Linked DNA regions of Homo sapiens: all the other regions are reported to be linked to region 1. The links are microRNA targets in miRTarBase. Many come from high-throughput screens and were not tested one by one. Region 1 holds a microRNA gene; each other region holds the end of a gene's coding sequence.
The links. Region 1 holds the annotated microRNA hsa-miR-15a-3p (CAGGCCAUAUUGUGCUGCCUCA, at 1,421-1,442, opposite strand). A microRNA usually pairs through its seed, bases 2 to 8, with sites in the 3' UTR of a target mRNA and lowers its output. Matches are read on the target gene's strand: a 7mer-m8 pairs with bases 2 to 8, a 7mer-A1 pairs with bases 2 to 7 and ends in A, and an 8mer does both.

Region 1 (4,066 bases):
GGTCTCGAACTCCTGACCTCACGTCATCCACCCTCCTCGGCCTCCCAAAGTGCTGGGATTACAGGCTTGAGCCACTGTGCCCAGCTCTACTTTTCTTTTCTTTTTTTTTTTTTGTTGAGACAGAGTCTCCCTCTGTCACCCAGGCTGGAGTGCAGTGGTGCGATCTCAGCTCACTGGAAGCTCCGCCTCCCAGGTTCATGCCATTCTCCTGCCTCAGCCTCCCGAGTAGCTGGGACTACAGGCGCCCGCCACCACGCCTGGCTATTTTTTTTGTATTTTTAATAGAGATGGGGTTTCACCGTGTTAGCCAGGATGGTCTTGATCTCCTGACCTGGTGATCCGCCTGCCTCGGCTTCCCAAAGTGCGTGAGCCACCGCACCTGGCTGTCTACTTTTATTTTTAATAAAAAATTTTAAAAATACAAAAAAGTAAAAAAAAAAATTAAATTATGTTGACATTTTATATCAATAAAACTACAATGATAATTTGGTCTTACTCTGAGTTAAATCTTGAATACAAAAAAGTAAACAAAGTAAACAAGACCTTATTTTTGACTTATCAAACAAAAATCTTTGGCTAAGGATTTAAGAAAACATTTTAATAAAAACATGAAAAAAATAGTATACCATTATAAAGTTAGAAGACATAAGACTAAGACCCCAATCTGTGATGTGTAGCAAATTATTTGAGTTTTGTGTTTCCTTAGCTATCCAATGAGTGGGTTGGTCACTTGTAAGGGTTTTTCTACCTTTAAAGTTATGGTTAAGTGTGACGTTTTGACAACCAGAATTTTAGGTATTTAATTCACATATTTTGATGGCTTTTCCCCTTCAGATATAAAGAAATATTCAGAAACAGTACTAAATATTGTCTTCTAAGCTCTGTTCAAAATGCTTAATATATTTTATATTTATCTGTAAAGACATATTTTAAAAGTAATTTCAAAACAAAGGGAAAACTAGAATTTGTTTTATCCCAAGTAAAAATCTGAATTAATGTCTATGTTGAATATAAATGTGCATTAAAATAAATTCCTCTAATGCTGCATAAGCTTTTTAAAAAAACTTGATGGCATTCAATACAATTATTAAATTGCAATTACAGTATTTTAAGAGATGATACATCTGAAAAATTAGTATTAATTCATTTTTACAGAATCATACTAAAAATAACAAGATTATCAATAATACTGAAAAGACTATCAATAAAACTGAAAACACATTAGTAACATTAATATACATTAAAACACAACTGTAGAGTATGGTCAACCTTACTTCAGCAGCACAGTTAATACTGGAGATAATTTTAGAATCTTAACGCCAATATTTACGTGCTGCTAAGGCACTGCTGACATTGCTATCATAAGAGCTATGAATAAAAAGAAATATATTTTCTTCAGAAGATCAGATCCTTGTATTTTTGAGGCAGCACAATATGGCCTGCACCTTTTCAAAATCCACAAACCATTATGTGCTGCTACTTTACTCCAAGGTTTTATTTTTTTTAAACACACATTCGCGCCTAAAGAATATAAAAAATATTTTCTTTCAGGAAAAAAAGAATGCATGTAAAAAAATCTATGTTTAAACATTATAACATTGATGTAATATGCATAATTATTTTTAAGGAGATTTTAAGTAGAATAATAAAACATTTCTACATCAAAAACTTAACTGAAGTCCATTCTGTGCCCAGCACAGTGCTATAGGTTAGGAAACACAAAGAATAAAATGAGGAAAAGAAAAGCATTTATTTGCTATGCCAACTTAACAGGGCAATACAACTAAATGCTTAAACTTTTGAATATATTCAATATATGAAGTTATTTTTCCTTGTATAAACAAACAAGTAAATTTATAAAATTTGATCTTTACCTTGGTAAAAGGAGAATTTACAAACATTTTGTTCCTTGCAGTACACCTTTCAAAAGACATCTTCATCAAATAGGTAAGACTTCACATCAAGGGAAAAACATGAAATGACATACAAGAGCTCAGTTTCAATAAACTTAAGCTAGCAAAATGCAAATATACTTTTAAAGAAAAATACTTTAATTCTAAATGTTAATTTTATTAAATATCTAATTAAGACATTTTAATTCCAAATATAGTTAAGAAAAAAAGCTCTAAACAAACTAATTCTCCCTTAAATAATTTGTTATTAATAATCTAAATATTTTACTTTCAACATTGATCTTCATACTAGAAGTTCTCTTAGAGTTGGATATCATTTGATACAGTAATTCTAAAATATGAATCCTTAAGTAATTCTAAAATATGAATCCTTGGGATGATGAGTTAATTTGGTACCCTGAGATGAGAAATAAAACAAATCCCATAGCTCTTAATCTTCCTATTCCCTGTTTCTGGCCCATTTACCAGGTAAGGAAGAAACTCCTAGTTTCCACTTTCTCAGATGTAGAAATGAAATTCCTTTTCTCTAAAAGATATCAGAAAATTGCCACCACTCTAGTGGTGCCACCATTCAAGCCTGGACAATCTTTTTTGCCCCATGTTCTCATCATTAAAATGACTATGCTAAAGTTACATCTATTACAGAATAGTAAGGTGATGTACACAACCAAAGCACTAAAATTTGCTCTTCCATTCTAATATCTAATTACTTATACAAAGCACAGGGTCACATTCCATATGAAATTTTTCTGAGTATTTTTCCCATTAATAAAAAATATATGTAGCTAATCTCCTATCTAAGCAACCTGGATTTCACATATAACTCTGCTCCTTATTGTCTCAAGTTTCTGCACAACGTTTTTTAAATTTTTATTTTTTCTTTTTTTAAGAGAGTAGTTTCCGTATCTTTTAGAGAAAAAGAAATTCATTTCTACATCTGAGTAAGTGGAAACTTTAGGAGTATACTTCCTTACCTGGTAAATGGACCGGAAATAGGTAGGGAATAGGAAGATCAAGAGCTACAGGATTTGTTTTACTTCTCATCTCAGGGTACTCTGTTGCCCAGGATGGGGTACAGTGCCATGATCGTAGCTCACTGCAGCCTTGACCTCCTGGGCTTAAGTGATCAGTCCACCTTAGCCTCCCAAGTAGCTGGGACTACAAGTGCACACACCACCATGCACAGCTCTTTACATTTTTATTTTATTGTAGAGACAAGGTCTTGCTATGTTGCCTAGGATGTCTTGAACTCCTGGCCTCAAGCAATCCTCCTGCCTTGGCCTCCCAAAGTCCTAAAATTACAGGCAAGAGCCACCATGCCTGACCTGCACTTTTTTTTTATTTTTTGAGACGGACAGGGTTTCACCATGTTAGTCAGGCTGGTCTTGAACTCCTGACCTCAGGTGATCCACCTGCCTTGGCCTCCCAAAGTGCTGAGATTACAGGGGTGAGCCACTGCGCCCATCCTGACCTGCACAATTTTTAACATGTAACCAAGATAAATCCGTTTGCATTCACTTGAGAAATATATAACATATATTTGTATTTATCAATTATATTAAGGAATTGTCCTTCAGGGTCCCCCTCATCACATACATTTTCCAGATAAAAACTTAAACATAATTTTTTTCAAATATAAAAGGTGCCTGTAAATTATTTAACAAATATTTTATTGAATATCTACTATGTGCCAGGCACTGTCCCAGTTATTACACTAGTTGGTAGTATACCAGATAGACAGTCTCTTTTCAGAAAGAGTAAAGTCATTTTAAGACAACTTAAAGTGAAGGATCTTAAGCTGAAGAATTTAGTGCCAGCAAAGGATGGTTTGAGTTTCAGAAAGACGTTTGGTTTTAAAAATGTCAAGATAACAGGAGAAGCGGCTTTGAGGCAGCAGATGAGTTCCCAGACACCATTAAGAAAATCGCTGGGGAGAAAGGACAGGTTTTTTTTTTTTTTTTTTTTGAGATGGAGTCTTGCTCTGTCGCCCAGGCTGGAGTGCAGTGGTGCCATCTAGGCTCACTGCAAGCTCCGCCTCCTGGGTTCATGCCATTCTCCTGTCTTAGCCTCCCGAGAAGCTGAGACTACAGGCGCCTGCCACCACGCCTGGCGAATTTTTTGTATTTTTAGTAGAGACGGGGTTTCACCATGTT
Region 2 (4,066 bases), not on the chromosome of region 1:
TAGAATTCTCCAGAACACAAAATTCTCAAATTTTGTGTTTCCTTTGACTAGTATTGCAGTTTCAGTTATATTTCAGAGTGGAATATACAACTAATTAGGTCATCGAAGATTCTGTCATCTCGATGATAAATTTTAATATTACAGAGCAGAGGATGAGGATGCAACACATCTTGAAGATAACGAATGTGATATCAAATTGGCAGTAAGTGACTTATTTTTTTCCTATTCCATTTTGGGAAGGCAGGAGTTGGTTGATACAGAAGGAATTATATTTAGTTTTTCTCTTACACTTCATTTAACTTTTGAAAAGCTCTATAAGTTTACTGCAGGAAATGCAAGAAGGAAAATAATTTTTTAGAGACTTGATAAAGAACATGGGGTTTTCAGTACTATTTTTAATAAGTAGCATTCTGATACATATTATTGCTAGTTAGGATGTCAAATGAAAAAATAAGCAATGTTAATTTGGATTTTTAACATCTACATGTAGTCTCTAGGTTATCTGAAGTAATCCAGGGCATTCAGCTATATGTAATTACTAAACTATTTGAGTTATTGCTTAATCCATGATTTTTTGTTTGTTTTATGCAGGGGGATAGTTTCATAGTAAGTTCTGAATTCCCTGTAAGACTGAGTGTATACTTAGAAGAAGAGGATATTACTGAAGAAGCTGCTTTGTCTAAAAAGAGAGCTACAAAAGCCAAAAATACTGGACAGAGAGGCCTGAAAATGTGACAGGATCATGAATGTCAAAGGTGAAGCATATAGAAAAAACGACTTCATAGAAATGAATAAAGATAAATGTGGATATATGTACCAGTCTGGTGGTGAAGAAATTCTGAAACCCAGAACTTTATAACAAGAAAAAAAATTTTTAACCCTGTGAAGAAGTTTGTGAAAGAAACTTGTGAAGTAGTAATAATTAGAAAAAAAACCATTAAAACACCAGAGAAAATACATAGAAAAATTTGAGAAATTGTCATTTGATTTCTGAATAAGAGCTTACAGGTGTCCTGTGAGTATTGAAACAATGAAATGTAGTGATTTTAATTTTGAAAAGAAAATCTTAAAGTAACTTGACACCCAACCATCTTGAAGAGGGGATTTGAAATGCTGTAATTTTATCCCAGCTTTGTTCAGCCATGACAAGTGACCTGTCAGATGCTTAGTATTGTAATAACCTCATTTCCCTTTCCAAATTTAGAGTATCTTTAATACTATTTTTTTTAGACAGAGTCTCGATCTGTCACCCAGGCTGTAGTGCAATGGCCGCAGTCTTGGCTTACTGCAACCTCCATCTCCCGGGTTCAAGCGATTCTGCCTCAGCCTCCTTAGTAGCTGGGATTACAGGCGTTAGCCAGCACACCCAGCTAGTTTTTGTTTTTTTAGTAGAGACAGGCTTTCACCATGGTCTCGAACTCCTGACCTCAGGCGATCCGCCTGCCTTGGCCTCCCAAAATGCTGGGATTATAGGTGTGAGCCATGGCACCTGGCCTAATACTACTTTTAACTACCATTTTCACTTTTTATTAGTTCAAGAAAAGGCATACACATTTATTCAACATGTATACCTGGGGAGAACCAGTCATTACCCCGATGTTCATTATTTTGATCACCACGATAGAGCTGACTACTCTGCTATGTAGTGCATTTTGGGACTGCACTTATGTATGTTTTTGTTTAACGTGGACAAAGACTTACAGATAGGTGCAAAAAATAAATCCTCTTTTGCAACCCAGAACTCATTGTTCAGTATGAGTTTTGATACATATAAGAAGGGATATTATGATACCTGAGACAGTTGATTGATGGGAGTATTGATAGCCATAAAGGTTGGTTCCAGGCCAGGTGCAATGGGTCAAGCCTGCAATCCCCACACCAAGGTGGGAGTATTGCTTGAAACCAGGAGTTCAAGACCAGCCTAGGCAAGAAAGTAAGAAACACATCTCCACAAAAATTTAAAAATTAGCTGGGTACTGGGGCATGTGCCTGTAGTTGGAGTTACTCAGAAAGGGGGGAGGCTGAGGCAGAGTTGGAGGCTGCACTGAGCTTTGATGGCACCACTGTACTCCAGCCTGAGTAACAAAGACAGACCCTGTCTCTTAAGAAAAAAAGGTTGATTCCAGGCCTGTAGAATAGATAAACAGCATGGGATATGAGGGAAATCCTCAGCAGTATTAATTTTGCATTCCAATTTCATGTTGATGATATACACAATGGCTTTTTGTTTTAAAGGCTTTTATCTTGAGAACATGGTGTCTGGAGTTAAAGGTATGTCTCAATTTGAGTTTTCACATCATATTTGTTTATGTGTAGGAAACAGTATGTTGTCAGAGCAAGTTTCATTTTATTCAGGGACATTTCTACCATGCTTTTAATTCCCATTTATACTGATTTCTGAAAAGAAGAATCCTAGATTCACACATTTTATAGTGATGTGTCAGATTCATTTTAGTTGCAAGCATTAGAGGGTCCTGAATTTGTTAGTTTGTAGCAATAATCAGAACTTTGGATTTCCTACTTGAAGCCTACAGCATTATTTTGAATTAATGCACAATCTAAAATGAGGCAGAGGATTTTATGGTTTAATGCAAAATATAGTATAATAAAAGATGATTACACAGGTCATAAGAATTCATAAATTTGAATGATGTAGAGTTTGATTAAAAGTTATATAATGCCAAAGTCGTAACTTACAGGCACATTATATTCCTGTATTTTATAATGGATGACAATTAATTTTGAGCCAAGAATTAAAATTTGCTGAAATCTTCGAATTGGGAAAACAACATCCTCTGTTGCAATACTGAAGTTCATAACAACAGTTAGACTTTAAACTTAAATCTTAAGTTTAAATCTTTTTCCTTTGGTTCATGTAAAGGAGCTACTTGATGTTACTTTTTATTTATCATTCCTCTGGCTCCTAAGCACAACGTGATTGTGAAATTATTGTTTTTGTGATTAACGTAGTAGGAAGTTTCTGCAGTTGGCAATATTGTAAGAGCATATTGCAGTTTCTGCTCATAATTTCTTTCCTATGGAGTGTTAGACTTTGTTATTTATGTGTATAAATACTAGCTGGACACAGTGGTGCCTGTGGTCCCCAGCTACTCTGGAGGCTAAGGCAGGAGAAACACTTGAGCCCAGCGGTTTGAGGCTACAGTGAGATGTGATCCTGCCACATCTCACTGTAGCCTCGAACCCCTGGGCTCAAGTGATTCAGCAAGAATCACACGATTTTTAAAAGACATGGCAGATCCTGTGTCTTTAAAAAAAAATCAAAACCTTGTAAATAGTGGTTGAGGTCTATCCCGATGGGGCTTTTCCTGTAGCCTGCACATCGTTGGAAACGCCTCATAGAGTAACTCTGTGGTTTTACTTTACTCACAGGACTATTGTTAGATCTGTGGGAAGGAATTACAAGACAGTTGCTAAAAGTTTGAAAAAGACGGTTGCTAAACGTTATGAAAAACCAGATAATCTACTTTTTTACCTTAGGTATTGGCATACTCCACACATCTGTACCATTCTTGAGTGATCGCTTAGGTAAGTTTTAATTGGTGACAGTATAATCTTTTGGGAAATAATGATTACAGTTCAGATGATGAATTTAACTGTTCAACTGCTGAATGATAACGGGCATGAACTAAAACTTAATTCTGACAGAGCTGGATATGGCTGTATAATAAACTGGATCTTAAATTTATACTTGGGTTTTAGTTTTAATAACTGGAAATGTATCCTTTCTAAATCTTTAATTGGTACTTTCTATAGGAATGAATGTGATTTGAACTCATTCATGTTGAGAGGTAAGTAAAATATTTAACTTATAATAATCAAGGACTCAAAAGATGAAAAATAGAAATTACACCATCCCAGTATTTCAGGTATAACACAGAATTAGTAAGATACTGGCAAAAATATTACAATGTATATATTTGTATAGAGAAGGAAAATGAAGAGACTGCATGTCTATACCTACCAAACGAAACTACCTGTGTTCTTTGCATCATTATTCAACTGGCAGTTACACATATTTCATCCTAAAGTCACGTAAACCTGTGTG
Region 3 (4,066 bases), not on the chromosome of region 1:
GGCTCCTTCATCACAAAACTCTACCATCCTTAAAATGTCTCCCTCATCCTCTTGATTGAGAAAGGCTGATCCTCACCACGTCCATGTTCTAGCTAGGGGAAAGGGAGAGAAAGAGGAAGGCAGAGGGCATATGCTTCTTTCCCAGAGCATGACCAAGAGGTTACACATATCACTTCCCTTTACATCTCATTAGCCAGAACTTTGTCTCATGGCCTCACCTAGCTGCAAGGGAAGCTGAGAAATGCAGTCTTTTTTCTGGGTGGCTATATGCCCTGCTAAAATAAGGGGGAAAATAGATATAGGGTCAATTAGCAATCTGCCACATGGAGTTGTTCTACCTGGGGTCTTTACCTTGAGCATTTGGAACTCTGCAGACTGATGTTCTTGGATGGGAATAGGATGACTCCATTGTGTTTCTCTGTTGCAGATGAACCCGAATGGCCCAGCCTGGTGCTGGTGGATGTTAGCAGTTCTTCCCTTGGAAAGCCGAGCTCAGCTCCCCTTCCTAGCAATGAGGTCCTTAAAGGACAGACTGAATGGTATTCGACGAGTCCTGGCCTTCATATCCCGAAACCAAAACTAGTGAGTGGATTGCCGAAGAGGAGCTCCCACCTTCCCCACTGCCGTCGGGGGGAGTCTTCTTGTAAATATATCTAATTGCAATAATATCTTAACAGAAGGGGGTGTCAAACAGAGGCATCAGCCTGCTGTTGATCACAGAGAGAAATTGAGTAGAAAGACCAAAAGAATGTGACCTATTTGAAACTTTCTGTCTTAAGATGCTTCTTGACATGCTGCATAACTACATAAACAGCAGAGGTGTTTAAGAGCCCAGAAAAACATAATTTGATTTTAACATTAAAATTTCCAAAAGTTTAAAGTGGTTTTGCTTTAATATTCTTTCTTTCATAGATCAATGACTGTGTGGTTGAAATGTGAAAACAAAGATACTAATAATGTTGCTGTATAATTTCACTGACTTGAGGTCTCATTCCAAATGGTTCAGGTTTTATAGAGCATTGTGTAAAATAATGTTCATACTTCTTTCTGTTTTAATAATTTATTTTTTGCACTACTGTATCCTTTTTTCTACATGTATGTTTGTAACTATTTAAGCGTACATTGCTGAAAAGTCCATTGCTTTATTTATTGATGTGGTTTACCATGTACCTAGGGGGAAATAACAATACTAGAAGTGTGCAGTTTTTGCTTTTATCTTTTTTTTACTACAATGACACTAGTTCTTAGACCATTTCCGTATCTATCCAAATGGATGCTTAAAAGAAGTTCAGAATGATGCTAAGATCATCTGTCTTCAGAGTCCACTTTTTTTTTTCAGTTTGAACTAAACAATATAAAATACTTAAGGGATTTGGCCTAGATTATGGTATATGCCAAGGTAAAGTAAAATAATTCATTTTCTGTGTGTAATACAGAACAAAGCTGAAAGAATTATTTTTATTATAGGCATTTACTTCAGCAATCTAATTGTACGTGTATCTAATTTTTCCCCAGTGCAGTTAGGAATCGGATTTTGGGCAGGATCATAATTAACTCTTCAGAGGAAATGGTGTTCAGTTTAGCACATCACAGTCATGCCCAACTAGCCTCCATAACCCACCTCTCCCCGGGGTTCTGAGGATCAAGACCTGGACAGAAACACTTGATAAGGACTTTTTATTATTAAAATGTAAATAAGACAAATAGAGTAGAACCCTATAAAAATCTTTTTAAAGGAACCAGATGGCCGGGCACGGTGGCTCACGCCTGTAATCCCAGCACTTTGGGAGGCCGAGGCAGGCGGATCACTTGAGGTCAGGAGTTCGAGAGCAGCCTAACTAACATGATGAAACCCTGTCTCTACTAAAAATGGATACAAAATTAGCCAGGCTTGGTGGTGTATGCCTGTAATCCCAGCTACTTGGGAGGCTGAGGCAGGAGAATCACATGAACCTGGGAGATGGAGGTTGCAGTGAGCCGAGATTGCACCACTGCACTCCAGCCTGGGCAACGAGCAAACCTGCGTCTCAAAAAAAAAAAAAAAAAAAAAAAAAGGGAACCAGATAATCTATTATTTTACCTAAGTACTGCCTTTGCTTCTAGTTGCATGGGTGAAATATTTCAATGTATGGGGAGAATATAGGGTGAGGAGTAAGAGTAAGCCCTGATTTAGCTTGCTTAGTGCTAGTTTGAGTCCTTCAGTGGCAGGACAGCCTGTAAAGTACCACAAGTATGGGAGTGTTATAATGGCAGAGTGAAACGATTAGAGCAGGGAGGAAGTGAATTGTGCCATTAGTACCTTCATGCAAATTATACCATGTGATTTTGGACAGTGAATGATTTTTGCATCATTCATTCACAGCCCATCACTCTGTTAAGGTGAGAGTGTAATTCTTACTTCTCCCATCACCACCTGTAGCTAGAAACAGGAAAGGGAGAATGAGATGATCCAGACAACATAAAAAAGATGCATGTAAGCAGAAACCAGATGGTCTTTTCTGCACTCACTTAATGGACATTATGTTGCCAGAGTGTTGTGTTTATCAGATTTGATGTTTGGAGCTAGTCTGGGCAGGTGAAGAACAGAAATAGGCGGAAGTATAGGCATTATTTCTGCGCAAGCAAACTCCACAAAGCTCAGGGAGCAGAAAAGACTCCCCCTCCCACCTGGTTCCCAGACCATGTGGTCATAACACAATCCTAATAGTTTCTGGTTATCTAGTGTAAATGCAACAAAGAAAAAGGCCCTAAGCTTCTCTACTTATTAGATATATTATTTTTGGCAATTGATTTAACTTTTGCCAACCCTCAGTTTTCTAATCTATGAAATGATAGTGATAAGTTCTGCATATAGGGTTGTTACGAAAATTAAATGAGATAATGTGTAAATCAATTAGCACAGTGTCTCACACCTAGAATGCACTCAAGAAATAATAGCTACTATTAGATTAGTCATAGTTATAGAATATCATCAAGGGCCTACATTTGTATAAAACACTGCCTTTACACACAATATCCACTTGAAACCCCTTTAAACTTAGTTGGGGGAATACATACCACTGATTTTTGGACCCATAATTTGATGATTTACAGATAATTCTTTTGGGAATTAAATGTGTGTGAAAGTGAAATAACTGGAGAACAAATGAGGGTCAGAGATAGGGATCAATCCTATACCAGAAATTTTTTTCCTGCTTCAATAAGGGCTAGAAGGTAGTGCCCTATGTAGGTCTAGGATTTCTTTCTTCCTTCCTTCCTTCCTTTCTTTTTCTTTTGTTCCCTCCCTCCCTCCCTCTCTCTCTCTTTCCCTCCCTTCCTTCCTTCCTTTCTTTTTCCTTTCCTTTCCTTTCCTTTCTTTCTTTTGTGTGTGTGTGTGTGTGTGCGAGTCTGAGTCTCACTCTGTCACCCAGGCTGGAGTGCAGTGGCTCGATCTCAGTTCACTGCAACCTCCGCCTCCCAGGTTCAAGTGATTCCCTTGTCTCAGCCCCCCAAGTAGCTGGGATTACAGGCACGCACCACCACGCCTGGCTAATTTTTGTAGTTTTAGTAGAGATGGGGTTTCACCATGTTGGTCAAGCTAGTCTCGAACTCCTGACCTCAGGTGATCCATCTGCCTGGGCCTCCCAAAGTGCTGGGATTACGGGCGTGGGTGTGAGCCACCGCACCCAGCCTAGGATTTCTGATAGAATGGAAGCCTTAAGTTCTAGCTCCATTAGAATAACCAACTTTTCACTCCCTGTTCTCCAAAATGTATTGAGAACCTTACCCATCCCAGATGATGAGAGTTTACAATCTGTGACTTCTGTTCTTAGTTGATAGTATTTCTTTATGTTGCCCAAAGTAACAGATTCAACAAAAAATGTACTGAGATCCCCATGTACCAGGTACTGAGCCAAGTGATCTCACATACCTGAGCTCATTACATCATTTATTTCTCATACCAACCCTGCGAGAGCAGTTATTATCCCCATATTATGAATGAGAAAACTGAGCCTCCACTATGTTAAATATTTTGTCTAGTTGCAAGGCAGGATGCAAGGCTAAGCTTTGGCTTTCTTTGGGATGT
Region 4 (4,066 bases), not on the chromosome of region 1:
TAATCAAACAGCACAGTGAATAGAGGAACTCTTTGGCATAAGAGGATCATAGGTTCAAGTCCCAGCTCTACCACTTTCTGGCAGTGTAACCACTGGTGAGTTATTCTACCTTCTTGAGTATTTTACCTTACTCATAAAACATGCTAGTCCCCACATCTCAAAGCAGCCAGGAAGATGAAATAGATCAAGTGGTCAACAAATGTTGTTAGGCATATAATTCCTTCTATTTAATAAAACAACTTTAGGGAATGAGATTTACAGAATAATCAAAGTGAGTAAGCTCTCTTTTTCAAGAAAGGGCTGAGATTAAAAGTTAAGTTACTCATTAGAAATTATAAATTTATGAGATAAAAATTGTGTGTAATAGAAATAGGGCTTGCGTCTTCCAGAGACTCTCCATCTCCTGCATTTATGGCGTAATATGGGAAGCCCCAAGGAACCAGCTATTTTGAATCCCTATAACTGTATTTTTCTCTTTTTATACTTTTCAGGCCCTTACCCCAGAGCAAGTGTCATTCTGTGCCACACATATGCAGCAATATATGGACCCACGGGGTCGAAGCCATCTCTCTGGCTATGACTACGTTGGCTTCACCAATTCCTACTTTGGCAACTAATAAGCAGCTCCTCGTGGATCGTAGAAAATCTTAGTGTCGTGGGAAATTTACTGGGGGGCAAAGAGTACAGGCAAATGTGGAAGATAAAGATGGCCTCGTGTGTGTGTGTGTGTGTGTGTGTGTGTGTGTGTGCTTGTGTTTGTGTGCATATTACATTTATTGTAGGATCTTAAAAAATCTCAAGGGTGGGAGATAGAAAGGTTAATAGAGTTGGAGGAGTGGAAGCTATTTTGTATGCAACTAGTCACTGCTGAGGGGTGTCAAAGTTTCTATTTTTATTTGTTCTGTTTTGCACGTCTTTATCATTTTGCTTTATTCCGATTATAGAATAAAGTAATTCTTTTTAAAAATATTTTTTGGGGCAAAGTTAAGTAAAATGTTGAGCTTCTATATTTCTGGGAACTGTACTCATATAAGAGTGGGCAGCTAATTTTACTGTAAAGAAGGGCCATGGTATAGTAGATAAATAAAATCCAAGGCAATTTTCAAACAATTTTTTTAAACTTTGGAATGTGTTTAAATTTAAATTTGAAAATAAAGATATTTGATTTTCTGGGGAACATGAATATTTTAGTTTGTACAATGAAACAACACACAGATCAGCATAACACCTGTTTTCTTCTTGTTTTTTTTCCATACTTCAAAATTATTGTAGATGTTATTACTCTCAGAAAGACAAAATTCCAGCATAGCAGGGCTTTCTCTTGTCCTCCAAGCTCCCGTATTTTCTCTTAAGTTTTAATGTAATAAAAATAATACTTCAATATCCTGTTAAAGTAACAGTTAATAGAATTATTTATAAAATTAAGAATTAATTTTAAAAAAAGAAGAGGTGATGCTATCTTCAAAAATTTTCAGGCCAGGTTTATTCTGAACAGGTTTATATGCCGACATTCTGATTTGATCTATAAAAGGTAATGGTGTCATTTGCTGGTGAGAATTCTTAGATATCTTAATTGCTGTGTATAAAACTGCTAGCGTTCTGCACAAATAGTCCCCACTTACCAATCCATTCATGTTGCCACTTGATTACCATCTTAAGTCTCAGTCCCTTCCTCTGCATAGAAATGAATCTGTGCAGGACAAATCCTGTCATAGGAGCCTTTTTTAAACAAAAAGTTGGTTAAAGCTAAAAAGTTATCATTGATACTAACAACATACAGGTATTTTAGTGATTCTTTTCTTAAATAGTCAAATACTATGGAATATAACAAGCAGAAAGTATTTTCAAAATTAATGTTCACAAATGTCTAAATTGCCTGATTATAAGTTACCAAAAATAGTACAGTTAGAAAAGATATAGGCCATCGAAAATTAGCATTGTTTAATATCACACTTACCACATATGGATAGTCTAAAACTATTTGTGCTGAAAATAATCACAAGCAAAGGTGGATGTGATTCCATTCCCCCAATGCTAACCCTGCCAAAAATTTTCAAGGCCTAAATCAAATTATTAGTCATTTAGTGGGTCAAATGTGTGTACCTGGAAGAAGAGTTTGCCCTTTCTAAGCGCGTAGTCACATACTTAATCAAGAGAGGAAATTTGAATCACCAAACGAGATTTTGAAGACTATTATGTTGTCCCTATCCCAAATCAATTGTTTCAAGGTAGAAACAAATTAGATAGATTCCAAAAACACCTATTTGGAAAAATCCCTCCAAGTGATTTTATACCCTTCCATACTTAAGACTACTACATGTGGAAGTTAGACCTCTAAGTATTACTTAGCAATACTTGAAACATCCTTACTAACCATTCGTCACTGTGCATTTAGTCAATGTTATGCTGGGCAGACTGAATGAACTGGTGAAATGAATTTGCTCACATGGCCTCAGTGCAATGAGGCATTACTTCTTCCAATATTGAGAACTTCAGAGTAGATGGCCTTTCTCCCCTGATGAGGCCCTTTTGGCTATCTGACTAACTCATCTACTTGTCTTCATCCTGTTCTCTTCTCTGAGCTCTAGCTTCCTTCCTCTCAAATTGTTTTCATCAAATTCCAATTAGAGGATGTATTTCTTTCCTGAAAGCATGAAAAAATATGGATTTCTGTCTGAAAAATATCTTCTCGGCCTAAGGTCTTTCCTTGTCTCTCAAGCCATGCCCCACTTCTATCTCACTGCCAAATCCTGTGAATTCTACCTTCTCAAAATCTCATGTTTGTGATTTCCTTCAGTCTCTGAATGTCACTATCCATATTCAAGCCTCTTTGCCTTTTTTTAAGCTGATATCCATGGGTTTCTTGCTGATCTCCTTGCCTCTGGTTTCTCTCTACTGAAATCTATCATCCCCTTTGCTGCTGGATTAATCTTCCTGAATCCCTTCCCAGATGCCTCTCTCTGTTCAACGTTTTACTGTGCCTTATCTCCTATAGACAAAAGGACCATGTCTGAAGCAAGGTATTCAAATTATTTCAACAAGTAAGTCATGACTCAAACTAACTTCTCAGCATCATTTGTGAGTTGTTTCCAGCCCCTCTGAATAACTCACACACATTAAACTAGGCTTATATTGTCTTACCATCAAGCCTTTGGCTATTACATTCTCTCTTCTGAGAATGTACTTTCTCCCCAGTCAGTGCATTCAAAGCTCACCCATCCTTTAGGAACAAGTTCAGATACTATTTAAGACATGAAGTCTTCTCTGATCCTCCACCTAGAGTAAACTCTACCTAAACTAAAAGCCAATATCTTTTTCCTTCACACATTTTAATAGTAGCAACTGGAATTTATTGGACGATCGCTATGATCCAAGGGTTGTGCTAAATTCTTTGTATGCATGATCCTGTTTAGTCACCAACCATTGTAAAGATAAGACTCGGAAGCTGAAAAAAATGTTAAATAACTTACCTAGAGTCACACAGCTAGTAAGTTGAAGAGTTTGGATTCAAACTCCTGCCTGACGGTCTTGTGAGTTCATTACACTTTCTCTAATAATGTCCGCCGCTATATATAACCACATTATATGTGGAAAGTGGAATAGGCAGAATAGATAGTTCTGCAATAGATTCAAAAGAACAGTATCCAATTTGATAAGCGACCCAAATGAGAAAGGTCTTTGACACTCAAGATTCTGAAGCTACCAGGGAACATTAACAGTTATAAAAAAAAATAGGAAGTAAATATATTTTCTGAAATAGAGTGCACCCAGCTTGGAAAATCAATCAAAACAAAAAGGGCAAAGTAACAGAGTCAGAGATAGTGAGGACAACTATATAAAAAGATGATTCCATGTTTTTGCTACTGTCAATAGCACAATGAGGAATGTATAAGCACATGTGCCCCACTGTATATGAAATAATAGTTGAAATTAAAAAAAATAAAAACATAAAAAGATGAAAGACACCCAGTGGGAGTAAAAATGACCCACCTGTTCATTTAACAAAGCTTTAAACTAACCTGTCAAGCTGATATTCCCCAGGTTTCAAATCTTGGAAGAACATTAC

Region 2: the mRNA of TAF1D is a reported target of hsa-miR-15a-3p. The part of its 3' UTR that is shown has no 7-base or 8-base seed match.
Region 3: miRTarBase lists LONRF3 as a target of hsa-miR-15a-3p. The part of its 3' UTR that is shown has no 7-base or 8-base seed match.
Region 4: the mRNA of SPTA1 is a reported target of hsa-miR-15a-3p. Seed matches in the 3' UTR shown: 7mer-m8 at 707-713.

The regions. Positions count from the first base shown.
Region 1 is chr13:50,047,710-50,051,775 of GRCh38, forward strand. MIR15A (microRNA 15a) reads right to left here and starts at 1,492; the gene lies at 1,410-1,492. DLEU2 (deleted in lymphocytic leukemia 2) reads right to left here. Exons shown (of 14, transcript NR_152566.1): 6 at 1,875-1,953. It overlaps MIR16-1 (microRNA 16-1), which reads right to left and starts at 1,352; the gene lies at 1,264-1,352.
Region 2 is chr11:93,732,830-93,736,895 of GRCh38, reverse strand. TAF1D (TATA-box binding protein associated factor, RNA polymerase I subunit D) reads left to right here. Exons shown (of 6, transcript NM_024116.4): 5 at 145-202; 6 at 592-1,329. The coding sequence ends at 735. SNORD5 (small nucleolar RNA, C/D box 5) reads left to right here and starts at 3,596; the gene lies at 3,596-3,668. It overlaps SNORA18 (small nucleolar RNA, H/ACA box 18), which reads left to right and starts at 3,299; the gene lies at 3,299-3,430. MIR1304 (microRNA 1304) reads left to right here and starts at 3,132; the gene lies at 3,132-3,222. It also overlaps SNORA40.
Region 3 is chrX:119,017,108-119,021,173 of GRCh38, forward strand. It overlaps LONRF3 (LON peptidase N-terminal domain and ring finger 3), which reads left to right. Exons shown (of 11, transcript NM_001031855.3): 11 at 428-1,248. The coding sequence ends at 583. Among named protein-coding and RNA genes, the nearest start is that of LONRF3, 45 kb to the left of the region's middle.
Region 4 is chr1:158,607,815-158,611,880 of GRCh38, reverse strand. It overlaps SPTA1 (spectrin alpha, erythrocytic 1), which reads left to right. Exons shown (of 52, transcript NM_003126.4): 52 at 492-1,177. The coding sequence ends at 617. OR10Z1 (olfactory receptor family 10 subfamily Z member 1) reads right to left here. Exons shown (of 2, transcript NM_001004478.2): 2 at 1-4,066. Among named protein-coding and RNA genes, the nearest start is that of OR10Z1, 4.6 kb to the right of the region's middle.